2 separate regions of the Homo sapiens genome follow, and region 1 is linked to region 2. The links come from fine-mapping of genetic effects on gene expression. A gene starts in region 2. The other region holds a variant in brackets. All regions are shown on one strand. Distances are from middle to middle.

Evidence for each region.
Region 1: its variant is fine-mapped to the expression of REV1 in whole blood (INTERVAL, PIP 0.94).

The regions. Positions count from the first base shown.
Region 1 is chr2:99,557,917-99,562,916 of GRCh38, reverse strand. AFF3 (ALF transcription elongation factor 3) reads left to right here. Exons shown (of 25, transcript NM_001386135.1): 21 at 2,481-2,552; 22 at 3,949-4,042. Among named protein-coding and RNA genes, the nearest start is that of REV1, 70 kb to the right of the region's middle. The variant T/C (reference allele first, on the strand shown) is at 2,604.
Region 2 is chr2:99,486,791-99,492,318 of GRCh38, reverse strand. It overlaps REV1 (REV1 DNA directed polymerase), which reads left to right and starts at 2,302. Exons shown (of 23, transcript NM_016316.4): 1 at 2,302-2,502. RefSeq lists an enhancer at 1,479-2,364 and silencers at 1,798-2,467, 2,578-2,677, 2,748-2,827.

The DNA of each region.
Region 1 (5,000 bases), 71 kb before region 2:
CAGGGATGAGCTGAAGCCCCGGTGGCACCAGATCAACCACACAGACTAAAATAGTATCAGAAAGGCTCTGAAAATTAAATTATCATTGGAACCACAGCCCCCAAAGTAGGCTAGGGCCTTCCTGCTAGACCTAAACAGGGTGGCTGGGTTTAAAATAGGACTCAAGAGTCTCCTAACCTAATGGTCAAAATGTCCAGGATACCATAGGAACTCACTCATCATACCAAGAACTAGGACAGTCACCACTGGCATGAAAAAAGATGATCAGAAGACCTCAATGCAAAGATGAATCAGTTGCTGCAATTATCTGACAAGGATTTTTAAAGCAGCCATCGTAAAAATGCTTCAATAATCACAGTTATCACTCAACAAACAAAACCAGAAAATCTTTTCAAAGAAATGGAAGTTATTTTAAAAAGAACTAAATGGAAATTGTGAAACTGTAGAATTTGATAATATAAACCCCAAAAATGGACTCAGTAGTAGAGTGGAGATGACAGGAGAGAGTCAATGAACTTGAGGACAAAAAATATAATTTACCCAATCTGAGCAGTAAAGAAGAAATAGACTGAAAAAATTAAATGAACACAGCCTCAAGCACAATAAGAAAAAATCCAACATTTGTGTCATGGAAGTCTCAGAGGAGAGGAATAGAGAGTAGGACTGAGAGAGTATTTGAAGAAATAATGGCTGAAACTTGCCAAATTTGTCAAAAGACATAAACCTACAGATTTAAGAAGCAGAGAAAAACCTAAATAAGATAAACCCAAAGAAATGCATGCAAAAACACACCATGATTACATTTCCAAAAACTAAAGGCCAAATATCCTGAAAGCAGCCAGGGAGAAACGATAATTATCTGCAGGGGAGAATCAATTCGAATGACAGCAGGCTTCTCTGAAACCATGCAGGCTGGGAGGGAGTGGCGTGACAGTTTCCAAGGGTTCAAAGAAGGAACTGTGAAGCCATGAATTCTAGAGTCAGTGAAACTATTCTTCAAGAATGAAGGGAAATAAAGATAGCCTCAGATTTAGGAAAAGTACAAGTATGTGTCTCTAAAAGACCCACCCTTAAAGACTGGCTAAAAGAAGTTTCTCAAACAGAAATAAAATGACAAAAGAAGGAATATGGGAGCATTGGGAAAGAAGGAAGAACAGACACATAGATATATATACAATAAACTACTCCTTATGAGTTTATAAACCAGGTTTGAGGATTGAAACAAAAATTATACCAGCAGTCCAGGCACAGTGGCTCACATCTGTAATTACAGCACTTTAGGAGGCCAAGCTGGGAGGATAGCTTGAGGCCAGGAGTTTGAAACCAGCCCAGACAACATAGTAAGACCCCACTGCTACAAAACAAAACAATAAAAAATTATACCACCATCTGATACTCAAGACAATGCTATTTTTAAGTGGGGAAGGTAAAGGTATCTAAATTGAAGTAAGACTTCCATACTATCCCAAAGTGATAAAATGTTGATACCAATAAATTACATGTATATTGTAAAATCCAGAGCAACCGCTGTAAAAATTATGCAAAGAGATAACACTGAAAAATGCTACAAGTCTGCATGTTGAGGAGATAGTGCGATGATAACAGTATGTTTCTTGAGCAATTTACAAGCCAGCCAACTATCCCAAGAGCTTTACAAACGCTATCTTAGTTAATTCTTAACACAATGTTATGTGATTGGCAGTATTAGTCTTATTTTATAGATAAGGAAATGGAGGCTTAAAGATGTTAATACATTTGTCTAAGCACTTACAACTTATAAGTCGCTGAGCTGAGATTTGAACCTAGGACAATCTGATCATTACACATACTGCCTCAGCTCTCTCAAAGAGTCTGCATATGTAATTTGGTATGTTGTTGGGAGAAAGCAATGGCCACAGTCCCCTTGGTTCAGAAAAATAAATGGAATTAAGTGCAGTCCATAAAAGCCACTAGTTTCTCGTAGTATCTGTCTGTAGAAGCAAACAGAGATTAAAAATGTACTCAGGACACTTATGTAGCTGTCAAAGTAAAAGTTACATAACAAAGAAAGAGGGGTAAATCTAAGCATTCCTCTGCATACCCAGGATGGAAATTCTTCTGGAGGTAAGCACAGAAGGATAGAACTTCACCTCCATCTGTCAGACACTCAGCCATAAATCAAAATGTGGAAAAATGGACATGTTAGCATATACATGAATAGTTCTTGAACTGGTATCACTCCCGACAATCTGTAGCATTTGAACTTGTACTGTTAAAGAGCAGAAAGTAGCTGTTCTAGTCATCACAGTAATGTAATACTTGGGAAAATGGAGCAGCACCAGCTAGCTTTTAAGAAAGAATTATCAGCAAGTACTATGAAAAGCTAAGGATCAGGCAGGGAGAACTACCATCATAGAAGTTCTGTTAATAAAAAAGCTAGTTTTACTATTTCTTTGCTTTTTATGTTTTTTATTCTATTCCTCCTCCCCGCTTTTTCTAAGGTATGCTATGAGACTAAAAACCCACTCAGGCCCCAATGCCACACCAGAAGACAAACAACTGGCTGCATTATGGTGAGTGCCCATCTCCGCTTAGAATAGCAGCCCCAGCCTCGCATGCCATCA[T/C]TGGCAAACCAGGTGCTGAAAGGCATAGTGTTTGCCCAATGTCTTCTAACATACAAAGCCCCAGAGCAGTTCTAATGACCAGGGAAAGTCCAGACCATTTTTTGCTGCCGTACTATACATGATCTGAATTCACAGTGATTGAAAATCGACAGGCCTACCAAAGTGCTGGGATTACAGGCATGAGCCACTGTGCCCGGCCTAATTTTTGTATTTTTAGTAGAGATGGGGTTTCACCATGTTGGTCAGGCTGGTCTTGAACTCCTGACCTCAAGTGATCTGCCTGCCTCAGCCTCCCAGAGTGCTGGGATTACAGGCGTGAGCCATCGCACCCGGCGCAGCCGCTTACTTTGAAAATGATGCCACAGAAAAAAGGGAACGATCGGGTAACCTATAGTTCCTTTACCTGTCAGCCCTTTCTTACTCATCAGTAGGTGGAAGGCAGAGAATGTTGATAGAATACATGTCTACCAAGCAGTGAAATAAAGACAGTTGAATTAAAAAATAATAATAACAGCAACAGACACAAAAAAGGTCTCAAATTGTTACCTGTCCTGGATTTGGTTGGTAGGAGGAGATGGTGCCATTGCACCCAGAATGTTGGTATTCTGGATGTCAGCATCAGATCCGAGTTAGCAAATAACTGAGTGAAGAGCTCCAAGGAAGAGAGGATAAGTCTCAGAAACGCCTTTTGTGCCCCTTTCAAACTTTAAGTCCCATATTGGAATAATACACTAAATGACAATAATATGATTATATAAGATAGAATACTGATATATAAATAAGTATACAAAATATTATAGGAAATAATAAAATGATGGCACCTATTCCCAGCATAGTGTTTTTGTTGTTTATAATGATGGCACCTATTCCCAGCATAGTGTTTTTGTTGTTTATAAAGTACATTCATGTTTGTGACTTTAGTGGAGCTGCTTATAGTTCAGTAACATCAGGTGGCAGCGTCGTCCTTTCCGCAGAGCGGGGCTCGCCCGCGAAGCAGTGAAGGCTGCGTACTAGAGCTACCTCGCGCCTCTCGTGGAGAGACAGCGCCCTCTCGTGGTGGAAGAAGGAAGCGGCCGGCCCCTGTGACCCAACAGAGTGATTCACCTAATGCTGTAAAATTATCTAGTGATAAATGTATTTATGGAATACCTTCTTGGAATTTTGAATTCTATTTTTGGACAAAAGATGTTCCCTCACAGACATTATATGCACGTATAGAAAGATTTCCTATGTAGAAACAAGGTATTGTTATTGAGTACCTTAGAACAACAACAAAAATGTTTAAGTCTTGTTTGCGCACGACGCACTCAGCCGCTTCTGGGCCTGTTTCTCTTTTCGCCTGCAGTTACCGATGCCTGGCCCTCCTGTACTGGCGGATGTTTCGACTCAAAAGGGACCACGCTGTAAAGTATTCAAAAGCACTAATCGACTATTTCAAGGTACTGTCTAGTGAATGAGCAGAATTGTTCCTTAATTTCACTTGTCTCCCTGTCAAATTTGTGAAGCACCTGGTAGACTCCATTGCTTTGGGGTTAATGCAGGTCACCTCTGGTCCCCAAGGTAACCCCATTTATGCCACACTTGTGGCTTTCAGGCCTCAGAATGGACCTTTGAGAGCCCATCTAATGTATCTCCCTGCCTTCTTGTCCAAGTATTTTTATTTTTTTATTTTTATTTTTTTATGTATTTTTGGAGACAGAGTTTCACTCTTTGTTGCCCAGGCTGCAGTGCAATGGTGCGATCTCGGCTCACTGCAACCTCCGCCTCCTGGGTTCAAGCAATTCTCCTGCCTCAGCCTCCCAAGTAGCTCAGATTACAGGCGCACACCACCACGCCTGGCTAATTTTGTATTTTTAGTAGAGATGGGGTTTCACCATGTTGGTCATGCTGGTCTCGAACTCCTGACCTCAGGTGATCTCCCCGCCTCCACCTCCCAGAGTGCTAGGAATACAGGTGTGAGCCACCACGCCCAGCCTTGTCCAGGTATTTTTATGGCTTCAAGAGAAAGAAGATCCAGTTACTCGTTCCACTGTCCTAGGAAATTCATCTTTATAGCTAACATAAATTCCTCATGCTCACTTAGAGCTTCTTTTCCTTAGAAGTAACCCCTTAGAGCCATTCCCTCTTAGCCAGTCTCTAGTAGCTTATTTAATTTTTAATGGCGTTATTTAAAATGGTAAGAGATGGCTTGTTAGAACTCAGAAGCAGTAGATAGCAGTGTGTAGCTATAGGGATAAAATTGCAAACCATGCCACCTTTTACTTATCTCAGGGAATGAAATTATTTTCACTGGGAGAATAAATTTTTAAAAGCCTTCGCTGATGTACTGTTGTGAGGTCGACCTTACATTAATAATTAATTTGAGATTTCTGGTCCTCTTCTCTGTTTATCTATAGA
Region 2 (5,528 bases):
CTTACATGAGAAAGATAATCCTATGAGAATAAATATAAATAGATAAGTGGGTGAATAAATGTAGGTGCATGAAATTGAAACAAGAGGACTTCATTATGTGATGGCATAAAACATAATATTCTGGAATGGACAAAAATAAAACTTTGGACTGGGTGAGGTGGCTCATGCCTGTAATCTTAGTGCTTTGGAACACCTAGGTGGGAGGTTCGCTTGGGACCAGGAGTTTGAGGTTACACTGAGCTATGATCTTGCCACTGCACTCCAGCCTGGACAACAGAGCAAGACCCTGTCACAAGGATGCTAGAATTTGTCCATAAATACATTTTTATTTATGTATTCCCCATCTCTCTTTTTATCCTATTTTATGTAGACAGCAACGTGATTTTTTTTCGTCCTTTACAGAGGCTGCCTACTAGTTTGCAGTTAATACCATTTTACTGTATTCTATAAAGGTATTGCCAAGGTCAGTTGGCTCAAGGTTTGTGTTTCTTCCTTGAGAAAAATACAAAAAGAAGAAAAAAAAAGATCTTCGGTTTGAATACGAGAGTGGAAAAGAAAATTGAAATACAATCGTGCAGGAATGCTGCCATTTAGACATTTAAAACAAGCAAAAGAACAACAACCAAAACAAAACTCACCCATAACAAGGGGTTACCACTGTTTTTCTGTAGCATCTCAGCAGATGACCTCCTGGTGTTGCAGTCGGCAACTGGTCGTGAGTCTGTTAAAATTATGGGCAGGCACGGTGGCTCACGCCTATAATCCTAGCACTTTAGGATGCCAAGGCTGGTGGATTACCTGAGGTCAGGACTTCCAGACCAGCCTGGCCAACATGGTGAAACCCCCTCTCTACTAAAAATACAAAAATTAGCCGGGCATGGTGGCGCATGCCTGTAATCCCAGCTACTCGGGAGGCTGAGGTGGGAGAATCACTTGAACCTGGGAGGCGGAGGTTGCAGTGAGCCGAGATCGCGCCATTGCACTCCAGCCTGGGCAAAAGAGCAAAACTTCGTCTCAAAAGAAAAGAAAAGAAAAGAAAGCAATTACGCAATTTGTTTTAAATTATGACGTCTTTGAAAAGTATGCAATCTAAATTCGTTGGATTAGCGACGAGAATACTGAAGTTGAAGTGCATTTATAGAAGTCTATAAAATGGCAAAAAACTGAAAGGGAAAGAAATGAGCTATTTGAGTATTCTCTGTGTTGCTAGTAAACAAGTTCCAACTCTGCAAATCAGTTTTCAAAAGAATACTGATTGTTTCCTAAGTACCTGCAAACTCTGAAGCATTTTAGGCAAGGGAATGAGTGGGAAAAAAGTATCTTCATGTTTGTGCATTACAACAATAAAGACTATTATGTAACAATGTGGAGTCTTCAAAGCGACCCTGCCAAGAGGGAGAAAGTGGTCCTTATGGACGGATTGTTTTCTGCTAGAAGGCCCTCAATTAGAATTGTACTTACGCATACATAATATAGGATATTATTTTTATATTCATAGAAAACTGCTTTCTCGGGTAACTCCAGCGCTGTACATGGGATGGGATACCGGCCCTCCGTTTACAAATACTCAGGCGCAATGCTGCCCGGGCACTCAAAGGACAGAAGATAGTGTCTGTGCCCTGCGGGAGCAGGCCACGAATCCCGAAAACGCCGTGGCGCAGTGCTCCTTCCCGCGAACCTGAGTGGGCCGTGGTTCTCGGTTGCTCTGGACATAGGAAAATGTCAGTTCATGTGTGTCCCTTTCTCCACTAGATGTCACTGTAAATCAATTGCTTAAGGAGGGAACCCGGGCGTCTGGCGCATCTTCACACAGTACCGGGGTTTGAAGCCCGGTCAGTGTCTGCACTTGTGTCCTTCCCCACTGGGGAGCCCCAAGGCGGGGCAGGCGCGGGGACTCGCTGTGCACGGAGCGGCGCGCTGTCCGAATGGCAACCGAAGAGCCGCGACCCGGTCAACGAAGCGCGGGGGTGACCGGAGCAGGACGGGCGGGCAGGCGGCGCAGTGCGTGGGCGGGCCCGCGCTGCGCTCCCCTCCGCCCAGCTAGCGAGACGGTCACGTGCCGCCCAGGCGCTGCCCCTTGCGGGCGGCTGCAGAACAACAGGGCGGGGCCGGGGAGGGGAGGAACACGGAGGCCGACGCCGGGCGCCGCGGTGCTACGCCCGAGGCTGGGGTCGCCCCGGGCCGGGGGGAGCAGAGCGCGTGCGCCGCGCGGCTGTGAGCGCGAGCGGGGCCGGGGAGCGCGCGCGGAACGCTAGGGGGCGTGGCTGCGGCGCGCGCGCTAACCGGAGGGGGAGGGGCGGAGAGCCACCGCGGAGCGCGCGCGGGGTTGGTTGCCGCGAGCGTGGGGGAGCGTGGACCGCGGCGCTGCTCAGCGGTGGGGCTGCCTTCCCCCGGCCCTCCTCCCTGGTCCCTGGCGAGGGCACTGGCGGCGGCGGGGCCGGGGTCCGCAAGGCCGGAGAAGGCCGCCGGGCCCGGGCATGGTGGTCTGGGGCAACGCGGAAGGTGAGCGACCCCCGGGCCGGCGGCGGGGTGGGGGAGGGGCGGGATCGGACACGCGTCGCCCGGAGGCGCCGCAGACCCGCCCGGCAGCGGCCAGAGCGCGGTCGGCCTGAGGTGGCGCGGGGGAGGGGTGCGTCGCCCCGGCCCCGGCCCGCGGCCGTCCTGTCGCGGCCTGGGCTGTCCACGGCGCCTTCCCCTGACGCTCGCAGCCGCCGGGTTATGTAATGTGTGACCTCCCCTCCCCTTCCCTTCCGTCATGGCGCGGCCGGCCCCGCGCCGCCGCCAGCCCCATGGGCCGCCCCGCGCCGACCCCTGGCGCAGCGGCCCTTCCCTCCGCGCCCGGCCGCATCCCGCCGGCCCGGTCAGACCGCGCCGCAAACTCCTTCCTCCTGCGCCGGCGCCTCGGCCGGCCATTCAGTTCCGCGCCATTCATTCACGCGCGCGTTCGGGCGTTCGTTCCACAAGCGTTTGTAGAATGTCGACCCGGTCGAGCCGCCGCTCCCACCCGCACTCCAGCCACAGCGTTTTTCCGCACCCCGCCTTCGACGTCCCCGGTGCATCCCAGAACCGGTCGGAATGTCCGAAGGCGGTTGTTGCTCCCTTGTTTTTCCTTGCTGCTTGTCCGTTCGCTAAATACGCTGGGCGCCGTTCCCCAACTGTCCTTCCGAGAGCCCCTTGCCCACTTCTGTACTGTTACAGTGACGCCGCTCTGGGCGCACCGAGCCGCGCTGTGTTTCGCTGCTCTTCCTACCTATTCTCAGTTTGTAAAGAAATAATCTCACATAACACTCCTTAATGTACTCCTCCGTAAGATAAATTGCAGATAATATACGTCTGCTAATTCTCTTTATCTCCACGTCTTCTCACGCCATGTACTAAGTAGAAATGGTTTCATTTAGGTGAAAATAATGCAGACTAGCACATAGCACAACAAGGGCTTGTAACTATTAAGGACTTTATGTAACAGTCTGTAATTCTGTGTATCTGTCTGGTCTTTCCGGACTTGGCACTTTAGTCTCCGAGAATAAGCCATTTCCTGTTTAGGTAGGGTAGGACCAACCATAACCTTGGTTCTTTCTATGGAGTTCTGTATGTAGCAAATCAGCCTGTGGGAACCATCTATCTGTCCACCAACCTTTCACACATATTCTTGGGTTTGCCCGTGCAGGGACCAGTGCTGCGTATTGTTCCCTGCCTTCCTGTACTGGACACTTAAGAGCTCACCTAAAGTTCCTCTTCCAGGAATCATTCTCCAGTATACAAGGCTCTCTTCCATTCAATTCTTAGGCTATTTGCGCCTTTTCCTGTGTTGCGTTTATCTTTTTAGCCCTGTCTTCTCTTACTGTGTAGGACCTTTTGAGGGTAGAGTCTGTACCAAACTCCTATCTTTTGTTGTAGAACCTTAACCGCTATTTTACGGTAAACCGTACATATTTAATTTTTTTTGTAAAGATGGGAATTGCTCTTTTAAAATTAATTTCTATGAGGTCTCAAGTAGAACATAATTTTTAAAAAATAATGTGCTTGAATATATAAGATCACTACATTTCCAACTTCCCACTCGCAACTTCAAAACTCTGATTCTACATAAGAGCATTAAGGAAACGTTGTCCTCACCAGCAACAAACTGGTCATTATTCATAAGAAGTTGCAGTGACTACATATAATATATATTTGAAAGCACTTTCTTTGATAGCTGCTGTAGTGGAAAGACAGGAAGTTCACAGTTACATGGAGGTTAGATTTCTGGCCCTACAAATTGTTAGCTGGTGACTGGACAAGTTAAGTTACTAGTATCTCTGATTTTTTCTCGTTTGTAGAATGAAGATACCATTTCCCACCTTGGGTAGCTGAGGATTAAATCAGTTCTTAAACGTGAGACATCTAGTGACACCATGGTACTCAGGAGGTGCTCAGTAAATACATATTCCCTTTGGTATACCTGTTTATTGCAGTTCACAATCTAGAATGAGCCAGGATGTGCTAGAGACAAAGCGTGAGAGGAAAGGTAATCAGAAGAGGTGACAGGTACCTCTCGTCTCCAAATAAATGAACAAGTCCTACACTAAAGAGCATTGTGGGTCTTTCTGCTTTTCAAGAATGTATGGGTGTGTATATGTGGCGTATTACTAATCATAGAGTATATTAAACAGAACATTTAAAAATGAAAAGTTTTTTTTTACTATAATAGCACCAACTGAAGCGTTAACATGGACATTAAAAAATAATCTTATTTTTTTCCAAAGGCAAGTCAGGAGACGAGACGGGAAAAGGGATATTAAAAAGGCTCTTTAGAGGCAATTAGGTTGCAGGCTCTTCTGTTAGCATCTACTTATAAACAGTACATGAATCCTAGTCTAAGTTCCATTATCTCTTGGTTGGAGTGTTTCCATAGTGCCTTTACTGGTTTATTTCTCTTGCTCCCTGACTGTTCCCTAGGGATTCACCTTGACAACCAGAGGGATCTTTTTAAAAATGTAAATCAGATTGTCACTTTCTTGCTTAGTGTCCTCTAAAAGCATCCTGTGAACCACTTACATTTGAATCTTAGTCGCCATCAGGGCATAGCATGATTTGGCAGCTGCCAGCTTCTAACGTTACCTCTTACTAGGTGACTGACTTTCAGCAACCTACCCCAGTCCCATAGTCATTTTGCCGGTTCTTGAACAAAGTGTTTCTTCCTTAGGATGTTATACTTACTATTCTTTTAGCTGGACCACCCCTTCCTCTAAGTGGTCAAGGCTCTTCATGTCTTGTCTTGTGTTTCTGCTCAAATGTCATCGCCTCAGGCCTTTTCTAATTCTAAAATAGGAACCAGCCCCTTCCTTTATAATCTTTTATTCTTTATTCTCTTTTTCTCCATAGCATTTATTACTAGGTGAAGATACACTGTTTTTTTTTTCCCACTTATTTATTTCCCCCCTTAGACTTGTTTGCTGCCAGCCCTGTTCTCAACAAGCGAGCAGAGGTCTTGTCTGACTTGTACACAGCTTTATCCCCAGTGCTTAGAACTGTGCCTGGTACATAGT